Linked DNA regions of Homo sapiens. The protein of the gene in region 3 interacts with the protein of the main gene of each other region in a pairwise test. Each region holds a gene or a part of one and is shown on either strand. Other genes may lie near its edges.

What was found. The genes of interacting proteins can lie anywhere in the genome.
Region 1: the proteins of SERPINH1 (region 3) and IDH1 interact in binary tests that used the Homo sapiens proteins (3 or more experiments, as listed by UniProt).
Region 2: the proteins of SERPINH1 (region 3) and VCF1 interact in binary tests that used the Homo sapiens proteins (3 or more experiments, as listed by UniProt).

What each region holds. Positions count from the first base shown.
Region 1 is NC_000002.12:208,251,963-208,259,942, reverse strand, and holds the start of IDH1 (isocitrate dehydrogenase [NADP] cytoplasmic), read left to right. Parts: upstream 1-4,871; 5' UTR 4,872-5,004; intron 5,005-5,484; exon of another isoform or gene 5,485-5,600; intron 5,601-5,639; exon of another isoform or gene 5,640-5,912; intron 5,913-5,983; 5' UTR 5,984-6,057; intron 6,058-7,980. UniProt on the Homo sapiens protein: Catalyzes the NADP(+)-dependent oxidative decarboxylation of isocitrate (D-threo-isocitrate) to 2-ketoglutarate (2-oxoglutarate), which is required by other enzymes such as the phytanoyl-CoA dioxygenase.
Region 2 is NC_000017.11:73,222,286-73,229,797, reverse strand, and holds part of VCF1 (protein VCF1), read left to right. Parts: intron 1-180; exon of another isoform or gene 181-550; coding exon of another isoform or gene 551-561; intron 562-2,084; exon of another isoform or gene 2,085-2,142; coding exon of another isoform or gene 2,143-2,162; intron 2,163-2,533; coding exon 2,534-2,633; intron 2,634-7,512.
Region 3 is NC_000011.10:75,557,998-75,565,764, reverse strand, and holds the start of SERPINH1 (serpin H1 isoform 1 precursor), read right to left. Parts: upstream 3,513-7,767; 5' UTR 3,446-3,512; exon of another isoform or gene 3,387-3,445; intron 3,293-3,386; exon of another isoform or gene 2,749-3,292; intron 2,039-2,748; exon of another isoform or gene 1,995-2,038; intron 1-1,994.

The DNA.
Region 1 (7,980 bases), on a different chromosome or scaffold from region 3:
CATAGAGCCTTTTTACTAAAAGTGCATTCAAGAGGTTTTCCTTTTGCCAAAATTATTTTCAGACCCTGTCTTTTTCTTTTAATCTCTCTGTAGTACTCCCTCTTTTTTGAAAACTTTCTTGTCTGTTGGCTTCTATGACATCAGGCTCTGCTGATTCTTTGTTAACCCCCAGACTCTCCTTCTCATTCTCTTTGTGGGGGCTCCTTTTCCTCTACCTGACCTTTAAGACGTAAGTGTCCCTCAGAGTTCTCACTGAGATTGACTTTTCTCCTTACTTTGAAGTCCTAGATAATATATACTCTGTCTTCAACTGTTATCAAGACATGCTAAAGATTCCCAAATTTCTTTCTCCAGCCCACCCTTTCTGAACTGCAGATGAGGCCAACTGCCTCCTGGACATCATCTTGCTGTCCCATGGCATCGCAAAGTTAAGAAACCTTAAACTTAACCCATGATCTTGGCCATCAGATCTGTGACTCTATGTATATTCCTTCTTTGTTGAACTGCACCTTGTCTCCCAAACTCCAAATTCAGAATTCCCTTTTGCCGTTCTCTCTCTCATAATCTTCATGGACAATCAATGACCAAGCTCTATTCATTCTACCTCAGTTTTTTTTCGATAATCAAAATGAAAATACAACCACATTAGAATATTTATGAGAATCCCATTATCTGGATGAGTGTGTCAAAACCAAATGCTTACAGAAATTTCATGGCCTGTGTTTCCATTTGTGTTTATAACAGTATTTGGGGCCAGACTATTAAAATACTCAGATTCTTTTACTGGCTAAATGAAAGACAAATGATGTCAACACATGAAATATTAACCAAATAGAGAGGGGTGCTGGGCTAAATGAACCATCATATGTCATCCAGTAAAATAGGCCGGCTATGTAAAAAAGAACGTGCACATGGCCAGGTGCGGTGGCTCACGCCTGTAATCCCAGCACTTTGGTAGGCCAACACTGGTGGATCACGAGGTCAGGAGATCGAGACCATCCTGGCTCACATGGTGAAACCCCATCTCTACTAAAAATACAAAAACAAAATTAGCCAGGCGTGGTGGTGGGTGCCTGTAGTCCCAGCTACTCGGGAGGCTGAGGCGGGAGAATGGCGTGAACCCGAGAGGTGGAGCTTGCAGTGAGCTGAGATTGCGCCACTGCACTCCAGCCTGGGTGACAGAGCGAGACTCTGTCTCAAAAAAAAAAAAAAAAAGAACCTGCACATAACCAGTGAACTTCATCTTCCCATTTCAAGAAGTAATTTAATTTCAGCTAAATGTTATTTGTTGTATTTAAGTGATATTAATGGTGATGTATTGTTTTCTACTTTTCTTTCTAGTCATTTTATCTATAAATTTTTTTATTTTACAGTTGTATGAGCTGTCAGCCTAAGGAGCATATATCTAGTTTTATGCATATTTATAGCAATATTTTAATGTCAATCCTAGGGATCTGAAAAATAATTTTTTTAAGAGATAGGATCTCGCTTGGTTGCCCCAGTTAGAGTGCAGTGGTGCAATTATAGCTCACTGGAGCCTGCAGCCTCGAATTCTTGGGCTCAAGTGATCCTCCCACTTAAGCCTCCCAGGTAGGTAGAACTATAGGCGCAAGCTTGCCTGTCTAATTTTTGTTTGTTTGTTTGTTTGTTTGTTTTGTATAAAGAGGGTCTCCCTATGTTGCCCAGGCTGGTTGCAAACTCCTAGCCTCAAGCAATCCTCCTGCCTTGGCCTCCCGAAGTGCTGAGATCACAGACTTGAGCCACTGCACCCAGCCAGATTTTTCAGTGGAAAATCAACTCCTCCATTACTGGCTTAGGAAACACTGTTTTAGATGCTGAGACTCCAATAACTGCCACCTTTACTAGTACATTGGCTTAAAGCCAAATTTGCAGCCATCTCTAGCAAGTGTTTAGGATTTGATATAACATGTTTGATGATTGAATTTGCCTTGGTTCTATATAACATCCTATAGCTATTCATTTTTTAACCTTATTTTTCTCAATTATAGTCAATGTTTTTATTGTGCTATATTTGATGTGTTTTTATGGCTGCCCTACATTATTTTGGGAACAAGAAAGGATATGAATGCTTACTTTCGGTAGGGAGAAAGGGGTAATAAGCAATGTGAACCTGATATAATATAAAGTAATTACAGTCTCAGGTGTCTTAGGGCATCAGATTCAAGATGAAAATTAAGAGTGGAGAAAAGAAAGGGAGATCAGATTGTTACTGTGTCTATGTAGAAATGGAAGACATAAGAAAGTCCATTGTGATCTGTACTAAGAACAATTATTCTGCTTTGAGATGCTGTTAATCTGTAACTTTAGCCCCAACCCTGTGCTCACAGAAACATGTGCTGTATTGAATCAAGGTTTAATGGATTTGGGGCTGTGCAGGATGTGCCTTATTAACAGTATGTTTGCAGGCAGTATGCCTAGTAAAAGTCATCACCATTCTCCATTCTCTGTTAACCAGGGACACAATGCACTGTGGAAAGCCGCAGGGACCTCTGCCCAAGAAAGCCTGGGTATTGTCCAAGCTTTCCCGCAACTGAGACAGCCTGAGATATGGCCTTGTGGGAAAGGAAAGGCCTTACATCCCCCAGCCTGACACCCGTGAAGGGTCTGTGCTGAGGAGGAGTAGTGAAAGAGGGAGGCCTCTTTGCAGTTAAGAGGAAGGTTTCTGTCTCCTGCTCGTCCCTGGGAATGGAATGTCTCAGTGTAAAGCTGACCATTCGTTCTATTCTGAGATAGGAGAAAACCGCCCTGTGGCTGGAGGCGAGATATGCTGGCAGCAATACTGCTCTGTTACTCTTTGCTACACTGAGATGTTTGTGTAAAGTGAAACATAAATCTAGCCTATGTGTACATCCAGGCGTAGTACCTTTCCTTGAACTTATTCATGATACAGATTCCTTTGCTCACATGTTTCCTGCTGACCTTCTCCCCACCATCACCCTGTTGCCCTGCCACACTCCCCTCGCCAAGATAGTAAAAATAGTGATCAATAAATACTGAGGGAACTCAGAGACCAGCGCTGGTGCGGGTCCTTGCACATTGAGCGCCAGTCTCCTGGGCCCACTGTTCTTTCTATATACTTTGTCTCTGTGTCTTATTTCTTTTCTCAGTCTCTCGGCTCCACCTGATGAGAAATACCCACAGGTGTGGAGGGTCAGACCCCCTTCAAAAAGCTCATATACCTCTCTAAACAGTTCTACAGGAATAAATGGAGGTGGCTGCCAATATCCCTTAAGCCACCTCAAAAACCAAGTTGACAAGGTGTATGCTTTTTTCTTTTCTCTCGGGAAAAATACCAGTGCCCTCTGGTGTCCAAAGTGCACCTTGAGTAGTACCACGTAGATCAGTTTATCTTCAAAGAATAATGTACTAATTCAATGTTAGAGATAATTTTTTAAAATAAATTTTGGAGGCTGGGCACGGTGGCTCACGCCTGTAATTCCAGCACTTTGGGAGGCCGAGGCAGGCGGATCACTTGAGGTCAGGAGTTCGAGACCAACCTGGCCAACATGGTGCAACACCGTCTCTACTAAATACAAAAATTAGCTTAGCATGGTGGCACACCTGTAGTCCCAGTTACTTGGGAAGCTGAAAGAGGAGAATCACTTGAACCCAGGAGGCGGAAGTTGCAGTGAGCCGAGACTGCACCAGCCTGTCAGGGCAAGACTCTGTCTCATAAATAAATAAATAAATAAATAAATATTGGAGCATTAAATTCTGGGCAGCAATATACAAGCATGCTATTGTCCTACAAATCACAATATAAAATACTCTTTATTTTCATGTTTTTGAGAGCAATGAACACACAAAATATAATCTCTGGAGGAGACTAAAATTCTTTTTTCAATCCACCGTTTTCTAAGGCTTCACATCTCTAGTCCAACTTCATTGGATCACAGATAATCCCCCGCCAACTGAGCATGGTGGCTCACGCTTGTAATCCCAGGACTTTGGGAGGCCGAGGAGGGCCAATCACTTGAGTCCAGGAGTTCGAGACCAGCCTGGGCTGCTGAAACCCATCTCTACCAAAGGAAAAAGAAAAGAAAAGAAAGAAAGAAAAATTAGTTGAGTGTGATTGTGTGCACCTGTAATCCCAGCTACTCGGAAGGCTGAGGTGGGAGGATCTCTTGAGCCCAGGAAGTCAAGGCTGCAGTGAGCGGTGATCGCTCCACTGCACTCCAGCCAGGGCAACAGAGCAAGGCCCTGTCTTAAAAAAGAAAATAATAAGAATCCCATTCATTATCTTCTAATGCAAACAATCAATGGAGTTTCTAAAGACCTAGACATAGGTGGTGTCAGGACCTGCTTCTGTAACTTTTCCATCCTTTGCATTAGGCAGCGCGGAACCCCCTAGGCGACCCCGCGCTGGCCGGGAGCACTCTTTCTTCAGCCAAAGGTACGTTCCATTACCGCCCCTCGGGGGCGCGCTAGGCAGCGGGCCGGCCAAGCTGCCGCCGCCCAGGGCGCCCTGTCCCGTTCGCTTTTGTGCCGACCTGGAAACACTCTGTGGTGCTCTAGATTGTTACAAAGTTCGGGGTGGTGCAGCCCCAGCGCGCCCCGCTCCCCGGCCTGCAGGTGGCATACAAGTCTCTTCGCTGTCGGGATTCGGGACTGAATCTCTGCCGGGCGGCAACCCCTTCCCCCACCGGGATCACCGGGAAAGTGGCACCATGGATTCTCCATCTTTGACTGTGGCCACGCCCCTCTCGCTGACTCCGCCCATCCCACGGGAATTGGCGTGTGGCGATTGGAGGCGTGTCGGGGGCGGGGCTGGGGGAGGTGGGCTGAGGAGGCGGGGCCTGGGAGGGGACAAAGCCGGGAAGAGGAAAAGCTCGGACCTACCCTGTGGTCCCGGGTTTCTGCAGAGTCTACTTCAGAAGCGGAGGCACTGGGAGTCCGGTTTGGGATTGCCAGGCTGTGGTTGTGAGTCTGAGCTTGTGAGCGGCTGTGGCGCCCCAACTCTTCGCCAGCATATCATCCCGGCAGGTAACCTCAGGCTCCAAGGGGCGGCCCCGGTCCCTGGCTGTGGAGGGGTGGCTCTAATTCCGCAGAAGGCAGGAATGGGGTAAAGGAAAAAAGCGCAGATCTTGGGTGTGGAGGGAGTCAAGGCCTGCGTGCAAAGAAGGGAACAAATCCAGGTATTGAGAATGGGAAAAGAAAAGGGAAGGAGGGGATGCTGGATGCTTGGATATGCAGAAGGTCTGCTTTTGGGCCTGGGAGGGAGAAACTGGGCGGTGAGGAAGTTGGATGCAACGACAAGGGGAAAATCAGGTCTGCACTTGGGTTGGAAAATCGAGGGGTGGAAGTTGCAAGAATGCATGTAGAAGACTAAGCCTGGAGTGTAGGAGGAAGAAAACGTGCAGCAGCTGGGGGCTGGATGCAAAGAAGGCTGTAAGCCGCAGACGGGCGTCTGCAGGCAACTCAGGCGGCGAGGAATAGCCTTGAAGCCGATCCCTCGCGTCCGCCAGGGGGCGTGGAGGGGCGGAGCTCCAGCGGCCTTCAGAGGGGTCGCTAGGCCACACGGGGCGAGAGGGGGCTGGGGGAAACACCCCCGCCAGTTCCGGGTGCCTGGAGTTTAAAAGGTCCCAGCACCAGCGAGGGGAGGGGAGGGGAGGGGCGGGCGTGGAGACCTGGAAGGAGGTACCGATCCAGCCTTGATTGCAGCCCTCTTGCACAACGGCCATAAGGACGGGTGCAGGCCAAGAGCAAGGACATGCAAACCCCAAGACCTGCTAACGGGCGGCGAAGCGGGGGCACGCCCTCGCACACGCAGAGATAAATTGTGCTCCCATGACCTTTATTTGGAAAGTGCCTGCGGGCCTAAAATTGGCCTTTGTCCCACCGAGTACACTCAGCACTGTACTTTAAACCGGATAAACTGGGCTGTCTGGCAGGTACTAAAAACAGCTAAATTCTCCTGTGAGTGTTCTGTATGTTAACACTTTTATTCCTTGTTTTGTTTTAGGCGATAAACTACATTCAGTTGAGTCTGCAAGACTGGGAGGAACTGGGGTGATAAGAAATCTATTCACTGTCAAGGTGAGAATTAGCAAATTTTCCCCCTTCTTCTGTACTTTCTTTGATGTGGCAGTACAGTGTTTAACTGGTCTTGGGGGCAGGCCGAGGCACTGCAAGGGAATGAGTGAGGAATATTTCCAACAACGAATTCCAACAGCTTCCTTGTTTCTTTTAATACAGTGTCTTATCTGCAAGAGATCCTTTTTGCCCAGAAATTATTGTAGTTCATGAACTCGGCAAAAAACAATCTGGCCAAAAACTTGAGGTTGATGAAAATAATATTAAATGGCTCTTTTTTTTCATTAAACTACTCTGTATTGTTATTCCAGGTTTATTTTCTGGAATTGCACAATTATGTTAGGAGATAGGATTCAGCTACTTCATATGAGCTGGTGCCTGCTGGTCTTGGAACAGCCCTTCCTTCTGAAGTTGGGATTGGGTTGGAGACAAAATCTGAGGGGCAACAAAGGTGGAGAAGTCAGTCCAGTGGGGCCTCAAGCCCATCCCATGGAAATCAGATCCAGAAGAAATACAATTATGTTCCACATGGTAGTAACAATAAAGCTTCACTGTTTTAGTTAAAAGATGGTAAAAATTTCATGGCTAAGTAATGTGAGGAAAACCTGAAGCGTCTGAAGTATGCATTATGAGATAAAGAAAGATTACTGCAGAGAGTACAGTTGCTTTAACTGAGAAGGAAATAGTGAACTAAAAAGATATCAGTCTTCACATTTTAGGTACAATATTTGACCTCTATTAACTGTATTTGCCATCAAGAATAAATTGCCATGTCATGACTGTTGCATCATACTATATAGGGACATGGCCATGGAAGTGTATTATCAGGAACCAGATAAGTTCACTGCCTCCTTTTTTGCTTTGTTTTAAAACAAGGATAGGTGTGACAGTGGAATCAAACATGAACTGAATCATATGCTTTCAGCTGTACTACAAATTATACTTGACATTACAAATGGGAAGTAATTGACTCATCCACACCATTCTGTTCATTTCTTTTAGTCTAGTTCAGTTCCAGAAGGTTCCCCCAAAGGAATCTCCTAAACACTAGTAAGAAGAATTCTAGAATTGCGAATTTGGGAAGTGAAAATGGGCCTGGGGATTGGAAATACATCCAGGCTTGTCAAGAAACAGACGCTTACTGTCTACTAATCATTACATTTTTATTTAAAGACCAAATTACTTTAGCTCAATTTTTCAAGAAAGACTATTTTAGGCTTCTTATCTAATAATTCTTTAAAGTCAATTCTCTTGACTTTTTTAGTCCTTAAGAGAATAAAAGCAATTTGCAGCTGTGTTGTTGGATTAAAAAAGAGTTTCGATTAGAGCATCATTAGAAGGAATAGATAACTTTTAGCAGGCTCAGAGCTTCTTCTGCCTCTAGGGACAAGCTGGGACAGTTTCATTTCTTCCAAAGCGTCCAACCTTGCACTTTCTGAGAATCAGATTGATTTGTATATGCTACCCCCACACCCTATCCTTAAAGTGCTGTCTTCCTAGGACAATGCACAGTTTGTCCTATCCCACTCACTAGCAGCTTACCCTTGCCTGTGAACAGCCAGAAGAAGATGACAGGGACATGCTTGGGTCCTGGGCAGTGGCCCTACTGTATAGAGATTCTTCTAATTGAGAAATCACTTTGTTGTATTTAGCCCCACATCTCCAATGTCTGTGTTATCTCTAGGAAAACAGTTCCACCAGGAATTCTTCGTCTCGCTTTTAGACTTAAAGTTTCCCTGAATATGGGTCACAGGAACCAGCTGAATCTCCTCATGGCTAGTTATTTTTATTAAATAACAAAAACAGCCTCTTAAAGGAGGAGAAATGCTAGCACTCACCATTCTGGACATCTTGAGAGCCCAGTAAAATGATGAGTTGGACTGAAGTGTTCAATAAACATGAGATTGTGGAAATAATCTCATTTCT
Region 2 (7,512 bases), on a different chromosome or scaffold from region 3:
CTCCTGGGTTCAAGCAGTTCCCCTGCCTCAGCCTCCCAAGTAGCTGGGATTACAGGCACACGCCACCACGCCCTGCTAACTCTTTTGTATTTTTAGTAGAGACAGGGTTTCACCATGTGGGCCAGGCTGGTTTCGAACTCCTGACCTCAAGTGATCTGCCTGCCTCAGCCTCCCAAAGTGCTGGGATTACAGGTGTGAGTCACCGTGCCCAGCCCATACTCTTAAGATTATTTCTATGCCGAGTCTCTAGGAGATGACAGGAAGGTTGGAGAGAAATGAAATAATGCAACGTGATGGAATCAACCATCTGTAGAAGTAACAGATGCTAACTGGTAATCTGCACCTAGATGGTTAGGGAAGAATATAATCAGTTATAGGGGTGCCTGCTAAAATCATAACCTGGTCTGTGGCATTAATGCCAAAAATTGTAATCTGATTGATTGAACTGATAGGGATGAGCATGAAGCTGTAATCTTGCCAGTTGTTAACACCATTGTTGAAAGAAGAATGTTTCAAGGATGAGATCTGCTAAGAGCCTAGAAAAAGGCAAATGAAGAGCAGGTAGGACTCTTTCTTAATCTGGTACCATCCAGAGGAGAAGGCTACCAACAGGCCAAAGAGATTATTCTGGTGCCTTGAGAGATCAAGTAATTTATGAGGCAGGGATATTTCATGTGACTCTCCCAGAGATTAGTTGAAATCCACAAAATCATCTCATCTTTTTTTGTTCTTACAGTCCCTCTGCCATGCAACCTCCTTGACATTCATAGTCTTGTCCCTGGAAAGATCTATCCCCCATTATAAATGAGGAGATAGCAAATTTTGATCAGGCTCCTAAGTTTGGTTAGAGTGACTCAGCAGCCCAAAGCCCAGTCAGCTGTTGGCACGCTGATAAAATGGGTGTGTGAGGACCAGCAGCTGCTACTTACTCAATGACTTTCTCTTTGGGTGTCGACTGGCCTCCCAGCAGACATTGCTTTGCCTCTGCAGAACACTCCCACTCAAATTCCCTGATCATATTAGGATGAAATTAGCAGTTTCTTGGTTCAAATTTATGATAAAAGCACACCCATTTAATGATTATTAAAACCTGATATTCATCTATTTTTTTTTAACCTCCAACTACTTCAAAGTAATGTGCAGCTAAGATCTGATCTCCTAAGAGAAAGGTGGGGAGCAGAAATGTCTTAGAATGAAGTAAATTACATAGCCCAGTGCAGGATGGTTGAAGCTTTATCAGAACCACACACTCTTTATTATTCCAAACTTAAGCTGGGATCCATACTCATTATTAAAGTTAGACCTATTCAGAATGTTGCAGAGTACAGAGAAGTGAGCTTAGGGTGATCATTTATTTTCTCTAATATTCAAACCTCAACTCAAAACCTTTAGGATTAAAGGCCTGCCACTGTAAGCCACCCTACTCTCATAGAAAGTGTATAATTATTTAGAAGACACTATATCCTCCAAATGTACATGCTTTCCAAGAGCTGTGTGTCCACACTAGCCTTTTGTCTCTTAACTATAGAAAGCTGAAACTTCAAGGGTTTTGTAATAGGTGCTGCTGCCATGTACATACAGACCTCTAGCCTGTGCTGCTCCGGAGAACGTTCTGCAGTGACGGAAATGTCCTTTATCTGTGCTGGTCAGTGCAGTAGCCACTAGCTACACGTGGCCACTGAGCACTAGAAACAGGGCAGCTGTGACCTAGGAACTGGATGGTTAATTTTAGTTAATTTAAATGTAAATAACCATATGTGGCTAGTGGCTACCGTATTGGACAGTACAGTTCCGGGCAATTTGACTGAAAATTATACCTCCTTTAATTTATTTCTGTTTTCTAACAGGTTCAGAAATCGTTTTGACAGCACATAATTCTTAAATAGAGTACATGCAAATTTGGTCTTTCTTGCATGTCCGAGAACACTTGCCTAAGAAAGATGTGTGATTTTTCTTTAAACCTGGAAATTTTAAGCAGCTTATGCTATCATCTCATAGTAACAATCTAGTGAAGTAATTGTTATATCATAATACCGGCTAGTGTTGCCAGAATAAGCAGGTGAATGTGACCAAGAGGTACTTTTATAAGGGTTTTCAGGGCAAATAGGCAAAGGCAGCCACTCTTATATCAAATGTTGTCATATGGAAGGGAGTACAATTAGGTAACTCGGAATCCTAATTTCAGGGAGTGTAAAAAGAAGAAAACCTTAATTAGGTTAGAGGTTGAAAGCTTAGTCATTAACCTCTTCCTGTTCTTGTTTCAGTCCCAACAGACATTTAAAATTGTTAAGCTTCTTTTTAGAAATGAGTTTTACTAACTTAAGCTTGACCTCGCTGCTGCTGTCTTGTATTTTTGCTCTTAGTGTCCAGTGATGCTGTACTTCCAACTGATAACCTATTGGGATATCATATGCTGAATTATGTTTTCTCAGGCCAGAGGGCAAATTTATATGTTGTTATGGTTTGCAATTCAAGTGTCCAAAACATCGGTTGTTTGGGTTTTTTTTTTTTTCTCCTTGTGATTTAATTTCAGGAAAAGGAGAAGGAATGGCAACGAAGAAGACAACCATCTTCCCCCCCAGACCAAAAGAAGTAGCAGAAACCCTGTCTTTCAGGATTCCTGGGACACAGAGGTAGGAAGTGTGGTCACATAGTCTGTTGTTTTCACTGCTTGAGTTAAATAACCTAGTATCTGCTGTGTAATTAAATTTACTTAAACAGTAATTTAAAATGACCTTAGTTGATTATACTGGTTTAACCTTTCTGTTTCCAAATCAGGGTCCCTTTGAGGAAGCTGTGTACCCTGTCCCCAGCAAAACAGTACATATGTGCACATAGTCATATATGTACACACTCATTTGTATTTGTTAGAAATTTCGTGGCTTTTTGAAAGCCTATGTTTGAACTCACTGTTTTGTATTTCAGCAGCGAACTTCTTTTCTGGTAGTTTATAAACCATGAATTGTCCTTAAGATAAACATATTTTGTTGCTTCAATTCAAATGCCTTTTAAGAGAAACTTTAAGCATGTAAAATATGTAAGGTATGTGTATGCAGAATCCCATTTCTCAGTGTTTTTACTTTTCATTATCTTGTTGTGAAAAGAGCTCCTGTGGTGAGAGGGAAGGGGAGTTGGGTGTTCTGGAACTTTTTTACAATTTTTGATTTCATGAAAGAGTGCTTCAGTACGCAGACTGAGGATACATTTTCTGTGCAATTGGAAGGCTGCTCTGTGCTGGGGAAAGGAAACCAATATAAAGTAATGCTGCTATTAAGTTATGCACCTAGAGATTTTGACCCTTAACAGTTGTCACACTAAGAGAAAAGCCTCAACAACAAAGAGCCCTAGCCTCATAACTCACAGTAGAATTCTCCCACACCCAAATAATTTGTACTTTAATTAGTTCCTGATAATAGGATTTGACCTATATCCAGTCTGTCTTTGCCAGCAATTCAAAGTAACTCCCCCAAGGGGGAAAAATCAGGAACTTTCATGTAGGTAACAGTCATTCAGAGACAGTGAACAAGTGCAGAGTAGAATCCTTCTGTGTGGAGACCTGAGTTTCTATAGCTGTTTTTCCTCTTCAAATATTTTCCTGGCCGAGCGCAGTGGCTCATCCCTATAATCCCAGCCCTTTGGTAGGCCAAGGTGGGCAGATCACGAGGTCAGGAGTTCGAGACCAGCCTGGCCAACATGGTGAAACCCCATCTCTACTAAAAATACAAAAAATTAGCTGGGTGTGGTGGTGCACGCCTGTAATCCCAGCTACTTGGGAGGCTGAGGTGGGAGAATGGCTTGAACCCAGGAGGCAGAGGTTGCAGTGAGCTGAGATCGTGCCGTTTTACTCCAGCCTGGGCAACAGAGCAAGACTCCGTTTCAGAAAAAAAAAAAAAAAAAATATATATATATATATATTATATATATATATATTTTTTTCCTATTTGCTTTTTTCTTTTCTTTTTAAAAAATGATTATCAGAAAGGTAATTGAGCTTTGTTTAATGTAATAGTTGGGAATCTCAGGGATGAAAGAAAACAAGATTAGAGGCTACCATGAATATCTAATGATAAAACCCTGTAATAGTAATTGAGTTTCCATTCTTTTGAATTGTAAGACTATTCATTAAAAGAGTATGCAAAGATTACTTCTATGGTGTTGGCCATCAGTATTTCCTTACTTGTGTCTGTATGTAAGTCCTGCTATATGATGTTCATTTCAGTCAAGGGTATGGTAGGTCTAACTCTCTGTATTAACGTTTTTTTCCCGTATCTGCCAGTTTTGAAGCCTGAGAACAGCAATAGAAATTGCCATCTTTTTCTTGCTTTTGTCTCTTGGTTAAAAAAAAAGAAAGAAATTGTCATCCTTTTTTAAAAAAATTAACATTTCTGATCTCTTAAGTAAGGCAGATATTGTAGATTTTTAAATTTTATTTATTTATTTATTTAGTTTTTGGTACAAAATGACCTTTACTCTCTTTCTAAAATCCGTGCATTGGTCTCACAGAAGAAAACAACGTCTTGTTACTCAACCTCCTGGGTTCTCTAGCTGAGCTTGTCCTTACTTGTCCAAAGAAATTCAGTTGTTGAGCCACTCCGTAATCATTATCTGAAGGAAGGACTAGATTGTCTTCCTTATCGTTTAAGGTCATTACTGGTAGTTTCTGTCTGAACTCACTGGTAGATCACCTAATGGGGTGTTACAACCATTAGTTTCAGCCTTGCTTACTGAACATTGACCAGAATAGCCTGCTGTGCCGTCCTGTGCTGTCCTGTCCTGTCCTATCCTATGCTGTCCTGTCCTGTCCTGTGCTGTGCTGTGCTGTGCTGTGCTGTGCTGTCCTGTCCTGTGCTGTGCTGTGCTGTGCTGTCCTGTCCTGTCCTGTCCTGTCCTGTCCTGTCCTGTCCTGTCCTGTGCTGTGCTGTCCTGTCCTGTGCTGTCCTGTCCTGTCCTGTCCTGTGCTGTGCTGTGCTGTGCTGCGCTGTGCTTCCTGGCAGTGGTATTAACAAGTAACAAGGACAAGTGAATGATGAGAGAGCCAGAGAAGCAAAAGGCAGAGGGAATATCTTTTAAAATGGAAAGTTAAGCCCCAAATAATGAAGTTTTCACTACTGGAATAAATGATTATGTTTGTAGCAGCAAAAAATCAAGTTTAGGGACATTTGGCTGGTTTTTGATGATTGTGTATAAAAGGGAAAATAAAACAATTCATTTTTAATTATATTAACAATTTAGACAAAATATTTTATTAATAACATTACTAATGAAAATGTTTTCTTTTAATTCTGAGGTAGGGCCATGAGGTCAGTTTCCTTGAAACTTAAGTTATGTAAGAGAAACCATTTCCTATGTTTTCCCTGAATGAATAAGCTTTGTCACCCAGACTGGAGTGCAGTGGTGTGATCTCAGCTCACTGCAACCTCTACCTCCCAGGCTCAAGCAATACTCCTACATCAGCCTCCCAAGTAGCTGGAACTACAGGCACATGCTACCATGCTGGGTTAATTTTTTAAGGTTTTTTTTTTTTTTTTTTTTTTGGAGAGACGACGTCTCACTATATGGCCCAGGCTGGTCGTGAACTCTTGGGCTCAAGCGATCCTCCCACCTCAGCCTCCCCAAAATGCTGGGATTACAGACTTGAGCCACCATGCCTGGCTAGAATTCCCTTCCTTCCTTCCCTCTGTTCTCCCCTCCCCTTCTCTCCCCTACCTTCTCATCCCCTCCCCTCCACTTTCTTCTCTTCCCCTCCTTCCTCTCTTCCTTTCTCCCTCCCTCCCTTCTTCCCTCCCTCCTTTCCTTCCTCCCTTTCTTTCTTTTCTTTCTGGCAGGGGCTCCCTCTGTTGCCCAAGCTGAGTGCAGTGGAATGATCATGGTTCACTGTAGCCTCAACCTCCTGGGCTCAAATGATCCTTCCTCTTCAGCCTCCTGAGGTGCTGGGACTACAGGGATGTGCCACCAAACCTGGCTAATTTTTTTAATTTTTTGTAGAGACAGGGTCTTGCTGTGTTGCCCAGGCTGGTCTTGAACTCCTGGCCTCTGACCCTCCTCCACTGGGCCTGGCCAAATTCTTTTTCTTATTTTCTTTTTTTTGTTAACCTGGCTGTTTAAGAATTCTTTTTCTTATAACTTGAACTTCATGAGGAATTTTTTTTTTAATTCTAAGAGAGATTTAAAAGTTACTTACAATTCATTTCTAAAAGTTAACCTTTTTGCTTAAGTACAATAATAATGGCGAGTACTAGGAAATATGTGAGGTGTTTTATTTATGTTAAACCATTAAATTGTGCCACAAGTAAATCACAACTATCTGTACAGTGGAGATAATAGTATCTGCCTCTTCTTTCCTAGATACTATAAAGCTAAATAATGTGAACTGATTTGCCGGATTAGTTATATAGAGAGAAACTTCATGTGTGCATAAATTAATGTGTGCATAAATGGCTTCTTTCCCCCATTTTATTTTTTTATTGTTTATTGTTTTTTGAGAGGGAGTTTCACTCTTGTTGCCCAGACTGGAGTGCAATGGCGCAATCTCGGCTTGCCATAACCTCTGCCTCCTGGATTCAAGCGATTATCCTGCCTCAGCCTCCCGAGTAGCTGGGATTACAGGCATGTGCCACCACACCCTGCTAATTTTGTATTTTTAGTAAAGGCAAGGTTTCTCCATGTTGGTCAGGCTGGTCTTGAATTCCTGACCTCAGGTGATCTACCTGCCTTGGCCTCCCAAAGTGCTGGGATTCCAGGCGTGAGCTACCGTGCCCAGCCTGTTTTAGTAGGTATTATTATCTCCACTTCTCAGATGGAAAACTTGGCACACAGAAAAATAGTCACTTGTCCAAAGAACACAGCTAGTAAGAGGCAGAGGAGGAACGGAGCCCCAGGGTGTGGTTGTTGGGCTGCACGCTCCTGACCATGGTGTGTGCTCTCCCAGAAGATAGAACAGAGGTTCTGCGAGACTTTGCTAAATATATCCAGGAGCAGCTAGAGCCTAGTCTTCTCTTTTTTTTTCTTTTTTTTTTTTTTTGAGACAGAGTTTCGCTCTGTCACCTAGGCTGGAGTGCAGTGGCATGATCTCAGCTCACTGCAACCTCCACCTCCCAGGTTCAAGTGATTCTCCTGCCTCAGCCTCCTGAGTAGCTGGGATTACAGGCACCCGCCAGCTCGCCCAGCAAATTTTTGTATTTTTAGTAGAAATGGGTTTCACGATGTTGGCCAGGCTGGTCTCAAACTCCTGACCTTAGGTGATCCATCCGCCTTGGCCTTCCAAAGTGCTGGGATTATAGGCGTGAGCCACCGCGCCCAGCCCTAGTTTTGTTTTGAGTCAGGAACAGAGAAGAACAATTTTCCTTCTCTTTTTATCTAGAAGCTGTTTTTTCCAAGTACATGGCATGATATGATCTTAGCTATAAAGCAATTTTAGATTTCTAGCAAGAAAAAAAACAAAAATGTGGTCTTGTGTTTTTTTTTTCCAAATCTCTGATTAGTGCTTGAATTGAAGACTTTGAATTTTAACTC
Region 3 (7,767 bases):
GACAGAGCCGGAGGGCTGCCCCGCCCCCATGCCTTTCATTCTGCTCTGGGATGTTAATGAGTCACCAGTTGGGTCACTCATTAAATGGGGAGCCAAGATGCTCCACTTTGCTGCCCCAAGGGTGACCCTGAGAGTGTGTGTGTGTGTGTCCTGTGTCCACTCAGCCTCAGTCTCCCTTTTCCAAGCTGAAAGGTCCAGGTCTCCATGCCCATGGCTTCTGTCTGGGCAGGAACTTGGAATGCCCATCTACCCACAGTGCTCCCAGTGCGGATGGGAAATCCCCAGGACAAAAGCTCCTGGGGGACCAACTCCTTTGAAGACTCGGTGGGGCTGGGGAGGAGGCTTCCTGACATAGCACAAGGACAGGATACTAGGGAAAAGGGTGAGTCACACATAGCTCAATAGAGCAGTGACCCCCTTCCCCATCACCAGCAGCTGGCCAGATGTGCACTCAGCCTTCAAAGAAGCTGGAGCCACATCAGATTCCATTCTGCCCTCCAATCTGACAGCCACTGCCACACAGGCCATCTGCTCCACGGCTTCAGGGTTGCCCTCAGGCCTCCTCCCCAAGCCCCAGCAGTAGCAGTGGCCCCAAGGACAAGCCCCAGTTCCCTCTCTGGGGCCTCCAATTTGGACAGTCTCTGTTCCTGGGATACTTCCACACTCCCTCTCTCCCTTCGGGCCATTATCCTCCTCTACATCATGCAACAGCACAGGAGAGATGACAGGGCAAAGGGAAGGATAGAAGGAATCCTGGTGGAGGCTGCGATCCCACTGCTCTGGTAGATCCCAACTTGTAGTCATCCTTGAAGAAGACCGAACATTTGAAATCCTGGTGGAAGACCCTCAGGACTCTGGCTGCCTGGGGACCACTGTATTTCTGGGAAGATTCTACTGCTGCCATCCCAAAAACCTGGACAGGCTCCCCATCTCCCGGGACTGCCTCCCTCCTCGGAGCCTTGAAGGTGCAGTATAAGATAAGCAAAGGGTCCAAGGGGAGGGAGGTGGGGAGAGGAGGGAAGGCCCAGAGATCTAAAAATGTCTGGAAGGAGCGGGGAGATCTGAGTCTCACCCTAAAATGAAGGGGATATCTTGGGGCCTAGAATAAACCCCAAGACACCTCCCTCCCAGCTCTGGCTCCTTCCCTGCCAGAACTGGAGCCTCAAAGGCAGAGCAACCATATAATTTATTGCACAAACAAGGACACTTATAAGAGTAAAATGGGCACTACTAATTATTATGCCAGGACAATAGGCATATGGCCACCCTACTCAAAAGCCACCTCTGATCCAGACCAGTGATGCTGGAGCTCAGACCACAGCAGAGGCCAACAGCCTTCCTTCCCTGAGGAGGCAGCTGAAGAGCCCACTCCCAGCCATGCCACGTGGCAGGTACCATCTTGACAGCCCCCACCCCCACCAGCCAGAACCTCAAAGGACTGGGAGGGGCTTCTCAAGCAAGCTCCAAATAACTGGTTTGGGATTCCTCAGGCAGCCCGCTAGGCCCGCAGCAGCTTAGCGCCTGCTCCTGGTGGTGACGTGGCAGGCAGGAGGCTGAACTATCTCCACCGGCCGGCAGAGGGGGGCTTCCAGCCTGGGAAGCAGGCCTGACTCAGGTCCCAGGGGGTGCCACATATTTGCCAGGGGACTCCAGGAGCCTTCTTGGCCTTAGTTCCCTTCCCATCCGCACATGAATCTCTGAAGGGAAATGCGCTACTGGGGAGAAGGGCAGCCCCACTGAACCCAGCAGCAGGAATGGGGGAAGGCAAGTTACTGCAAGCAGGCCAGCCTCCCACAGCCCAGCCCATCTTGCCACAGAGAAATGCCAGCCCTCAGGCCAAGGTTAGCTGAGTTACAGTCCCACAAAGAAAATACAAGATCACCTAGCCAGGGCTGTGCCCACAGCTAGCTGGACTGAGCAGGGTCTGGAAGGGAAGGGGAGGAGATGATGGGACCCCACCAGAGGGTCCCAAACACTTGAGAGGTCTAAAGTACCTGGAAACTGCCTCAGAGGGAGGTCAATGCCTGCCTTTTTCATTCTGAAAGAAAACAGAAGAGTGAAGAGGGCGGGAGCCGGCAAAGGAGAGATGGTGAGGAGGCCCCTGGCGCAGAGGGCACAACCAGTCCCCAATCTACAGGGACCTTGGAGATCGACCACCTCACTGTAAAATGGGAGAAACAAGGCCAGGGCAGGGGGTCACCCCAGGTCCCTCGGGATAAACAGGGGTCTGCCTTCCCAGCACAGGGGTCCTTCCTCACAGAAGCACAGAGCCCCTCCTGAGGGCTGCATGCGGTGTCCTGTTACACAGCCAGTACAAAAAAAAAATCTCTGCTGGGAGTCCCGGTGACAGAGGAGACAAAGGAGAGGACGGGAAGGGGGGATGGGTACATGAACCATCTGAAGACAGGAGGGTGTGGCCCCGGCCGGAATTCCGGAGAACCAAAGCCCCCTCATTTTCCTCAGGCCTCCATCCGGGCCGTACAGCCCAGAGGGACCAGCGGGAAACAAGGAAGAGGAGGGGCTGAGACTCTGGGCCAGTCTGGAAGTGCATTCATTCTCCTTCCTGCTCTTCAGCCACCTCAGGAATGTCTCTAAGCTGGGGGGCAGGGAACCCCAGCCTCTGGAAGTTAGACCCTGCAGTTTAAACCCTGCAGTTACTCCAAGAACCCTGTGGCAGTGGACAGAAGGAAAGACTCAAATCCTTCTAGTCAGCCCCTTAATCCCCAGAGCAGAGCAGACCCTGCTGACCCCCACTCTCTTTTTTCGGAGTGGTAGGGAGCCTCGCTGGCCAAGTCTTTCCTTTGGCTGCCATCATCTAGGCTGCAAGCTGCTGATCAGAAATTGAGCCACTGTCGCCCACTTCTACCAGAGCACACGGACCCCAGGAGTCGAGACGATTTCACCTCCTTTCCCACCACCGGAAGCTCAAATTCCCTCAGCAAGCCTGTGAGGAGGCTGGGCCACCAATCACCGCTGCCCCTGAGCCTCAACCCCAGAACGGAAGTGACCTGGAACTGCGAGGCCGGCCTATCCTCCCTACCCTTGCGGGAAGAGGCACCAGACCCATCTCCTTCCTCCTCTGTTTCTTTCCGCAGAGGCTCTGCTCTCTGCCCCCAGCCCCCTTTACACAGCACCTAGTCTCGTATCTGCCACCACCACCTTTTAGGGGTCCCTGCACTTTTTCCCAGTCCTCCGAGTGCACGGACTCCCAACCCGGCTCCGATCTCCGCCCTAGCCCTCAGCTGGCACCATCACTGGCTAGCCCTGGGCTCTCGATTCCAAACCCTCCAGCGGCCCCCAAAGTGCCGAGGACTCCAATTTGTAGGCTCTGGCTCGGCACCCAACGCTTCGCAGGGTCCCCTCGCCCCTCTTACTCCCTCGCGCACCCCCAGATTGCTCGGCGCTCCCCCGGGCCGCACGCACGCAGGCGTCTCCCGCCCCTCACCTGGGTCGGGCTGGGCTAGCGCCGGGACGTGACTCTCGCTCTCGAGCCGCGACACGATTCTACTCTTAGCCCGCTCCCCTGCTCCCGGGATCTATATATGGCAGTCCCCACCCCCTCCTGCCCGTCCCGAGAAACTTCTGGAAAGTTGGAAACGCTTCCGGAGGGCGCCCCAGCTCCGCCAAAAAAAGCCAAAGACCTCCCTCAAAACCTCCCCGGCCCCCGGCCCCTCCCTCTGCCGGCGCCTCCCGGCCCCTGGGTCCTACTGCCTCCCTCGGCGGCCCGGGCTGCGGGGCGCCGGGAGTCCCCACGGGGATCAGCGTGTCCTTCAGAGTGCGAGCTTCCTCCCACCCCCAGGCTCTCTGCATAAGCTAGCCCACTCCGAATCGCACGTCCTTTCAGGCGCCCCTTTCCCCGCAGGGGCTCTGCCCCAAGCAGAGCCATCTCCCCTTCTCCCCGCTCTCCCCCATTTTCAAGCTGAAACAATTGAGTCCTGTGCACCCCCTCCCTCTCAGGGGAGACGTTCAGGCTTCTGAAGGCAGTGCCCTTCTCCATACTTGTACATTCAAAAAACCTCAACCTCAGCGATGGCCAGAGGGAGAGGGAGCAGACCAGACCCGGTACCTGCCCGGCACCCGGAAAGTTCAAGTCGTGGAGTAATAGAGGCAGAGATGCCTGGGGAACTTCAGGTGGTCTGGCTGGGCTTGGAGGAGTGCACAGGAAGGAAAACCTGGCTCTCCACTGAGCAAGGTGCTGTGTGACCCTAAGCAGGTTACTTTCCCTTTCTGGGCCTCTGTTCCCTTGGCTGTGAAATGTGGTTCTAAGGCATCCCTTGCTTTTTTTCCCCCCTCTCTCCCTTCCTCAATCCTTGTCACCCCTGGCCCCCTCCCTATTGCATCCCCTCCCTCTTTGGGTCCCCTCCCACAGGCCTCAGGTCTCACTGTCAATTCCTACCCCACCCTCGCAAACTGATAGCTCCTTGACCTCCAAGTTAAGCTAGGGTATTCATTACTGTTCTAGGTGCTGAGGACACAGCTGAGAGCTGAACAAAGTCCTTGCCCTGTGCGATGTCCATCTGTGGGGTATGTACCTGTTAGTAGGGAATTCAGTGATTCAGTGAGGCAGATTATTTAGGAAACCCTAAATAATCTGGGCGACAGTGGCTCAATTTCTGATCAGCCGAGGCTCCCTACCCTCCGAAAAGTCCTCTTTAGTAGTTTAATGATAGCTATTGGATGGACGCAGTATGGAGAGGAAGGGACAGGGTAGGGACTCTTCATTCATTCAGTCATGAATGAATGCATTGAGTATCTTCTTTCTTCTAGGTGCTTGCCTGGATCCTGGGGAGCAAAAAAATCCCAGTACCCAGCAAATGAGTCAATCACCTGGGTCCCTGCCCTCTGTTAGTGGTTGTGGGGAAGCCTGGTGGTGGTGACAAACCTCTCTGTCTGGGTAGGCTTCTGCAGCTCAGAGTCTTTTGAGTACAAGGACTGTGGGAAATCTCAGATCCCAAAAGCTTCAGACTCTGTGATTCAGGGTCAAGGAATCAGAGATTACTTCCACTCAAAGCCCCCAAGGAGTCTTTGAATCCAGCTAAGGAATCTTAACATGTTAAAATCTCAGAGTCGAAGGATTCTGGAATAAATGTATTAAAGACTCTGAGCTGCAAGGCATCTCAGAGGTCAGGGGTTCCTGTCTGCAGCCCCAGGCAGAAGCCCTCTTCTCAGTATCCCAAAAAGGCAAGCACCGAGGCACCTCTAAGAAGAGAGAGCTTACCTCCTTCAGAGGCAGCCCCGCATTCTTTTTTAGGACAGGTCTGATTATTAACAAAAGCTTCCAGCCTTGGCATGGTGTCCATCTCTTTGGGGTGGCTGTCGTGGTTCTCATGTGCTTCCTCCTGCCTCAACTGTATATTGCTTTTAAAGATAAATTCTAGGCTGGGCGCGGTGGCTCATGCCTGTAATCCCAGCACTTTGGAAGGCCGAGGTGGGTGGATCACCTGAGGTCAGCAGTTCAAGATCAGCGTGGCCAAAATGGTGAAACCCCATCTCTAATAAAAATATGAAAATTAGCCAGCTGTGGTGTCATGTGCCTGTAATCCCAGCTACTCAGGAGGCTGAGGCGGGAGAATCTCTTGAACCTGGGAGGTGGAGTTTGCAGTGAGCCGAGATCATGCCACTGCACTCCAGCATGGGTGACAGAGCGAGACTCCATCTCAAAAAAAAAAGATAAATTCTTGTTTATCCAAGGAGACCTCCCGGGTCCCAGGCCAGACCCCACTCTCTACTCCCACCCCCACATTGGCCCTCAGGCTTCCTTGTGACTTGGTCAGTGAGCTGAGGGCAGGGCAGAGCAGAAACAAAGAGTGCCCATCAATGCTGGCAAAACAGAGAGGGTCGCCTGGGTTTTCAGCAGGTTCAGATGTCACAATCCCAGTGAGACTCCCTTCCTCTACTCTCTTACATCTCTTAGCTCTTTTAGGCTTCACCAACACCTGAGGGGGAGACTGAGAGTGCTGTGACTGTCCCATTTTGAGGGATAAACCAAAGCTCATGCTGTTAAATAGACCCAGTATCATGAGTGGTCACTGAAGAGAGGACCTGCCCTTACAGACAGCAAAGCTGAGGCCTAAGGAGGGCTGGGTCTGAAGGCCCAACCCCCATCCGACCCCCACTAATCTCACACCGGGTCAGAAGCCTCCTCTGTGACCTATCCCACTGCTGCATTATCTCTGTTATCACCCTGTATTGTCAGTGAACCATCACTGGAGACTTTGGAAGGGCAGGGCCTTTTCCTTGTCACTGTGAGTCCCCAGCTCCAGCAAGGGGACAGTATGGAAGAGGCACTGGGTAAGCATGGCTGGCCAGGGGATGAGAAGTGGCTGCCTGAGGCTGCTGTGCCCCTAGCACAGCCTCCCTGAAGAAGGGAAAGCAACGGCTCCTTTAAATTTCCAAGATCAGCAAAAAAAAAAAAAGTCAAGAGCCTTTGCCACAATATTCTTAGCTCTGAGCCCAGCCCAGACTGACTGTGGCCCTTCCCCCACATTCCAGGCAGAGCTTTCCGGAAAAAGCACTCTTTTAGGGGGTGGGGGAGAAGAGTCTGATAAGCAGAGAAACTCTCAAGCATTTTGTCTCTGGACTCCTCCAGTGCCTCGCTTCACTGAAGGAAGTGGTCCTGGTGCCTGGCACGTGGAGGCTGGCTGGAAATCCTCTAGATCCCTAGGTCCCGAGAGGTGTGGACAGCAGAAAGTAGAAAACCATCAAGTCCAACTGCATCCACACTATACAGAGAGGACAACGGAAGCCCAGAGAGGGCAGGAATTTACCCAAGGTCACACAGCATATCAGAGGTGGGGCTGGGCTGGAGCCTAAGCCCTGGACTCCCAGCCCTCTTTCTCCCACAGTACCCTCTAATGACCCAGGGGGGTATGTAGGCCCAGTTCTGCCAGGTGCTGTGGAAACAGCTTTCTTTGGCCCCAGTGGCTAGATTCACTCAGTCTTCACCCCATAGAATCCTAGGACAAAAACTTGCATGTCATTTAAGTGTGCAACACATTCACATTTATTATCATATTTATTCCTTTCAGGTAAGGAAGAATGTTCCAATTTTCAGCATGAAGAAACTGAGGATCAGGGAGACTAAGCAACAGGGTTAAGGGCACACAACAAGCCAGAGTCAGAGCTGGGTTTTGAATCAGGTCTGTTTATGCCATATCCACGGGAAGGCAGGGAGTGGACGAGAAGGAAGTGACATTTATGGGCCATTTTGCCGCTGCCAGGCCTGTGCTGGGCACCGTCATTAGTGTCTCACTTTTAATTATAGAACGTTAATCGGAAGGAAGTTTAATCCCCTTCTTTTTACATTGGTATAAAATTGGAGCCCAGAAAGCTCCGACAGCCAGTCCAGGGTCGGCCCCCTCCCTCAGGGAGCCAGGGCTGCTATAGGCAGCTCTTCTTTGAGATGCTGTCCAGGAGCCAAGAATGTGCTCTCAGCCCAAGGCATGAGTCAGGAAAACACGATTTCTGTAATCTTGGATTCTCTCTCTTGGAGCGTGGGGCCTTCCATCCAAAAAGGGCTGTCCTGCGTGCTGCCACGTTGGAGGGTGGGCAGCCGGTCCATGTGGGGGTGGGTGGGCACATGATTCCTCCCCTCCTCCTCCCAGAGCAGGCCCGCCCCTACCCGTCTGCAATCCTGGTGCTGAGCGAAGCCACATAGGAACTCCAGCGCCTTCACCCACATGCCTGGCACAATACCCAGGAGACACAAGCCCACTGACTCGCTATATACACAGGCGTATGTGCACCCACATACATGGTGCACACACG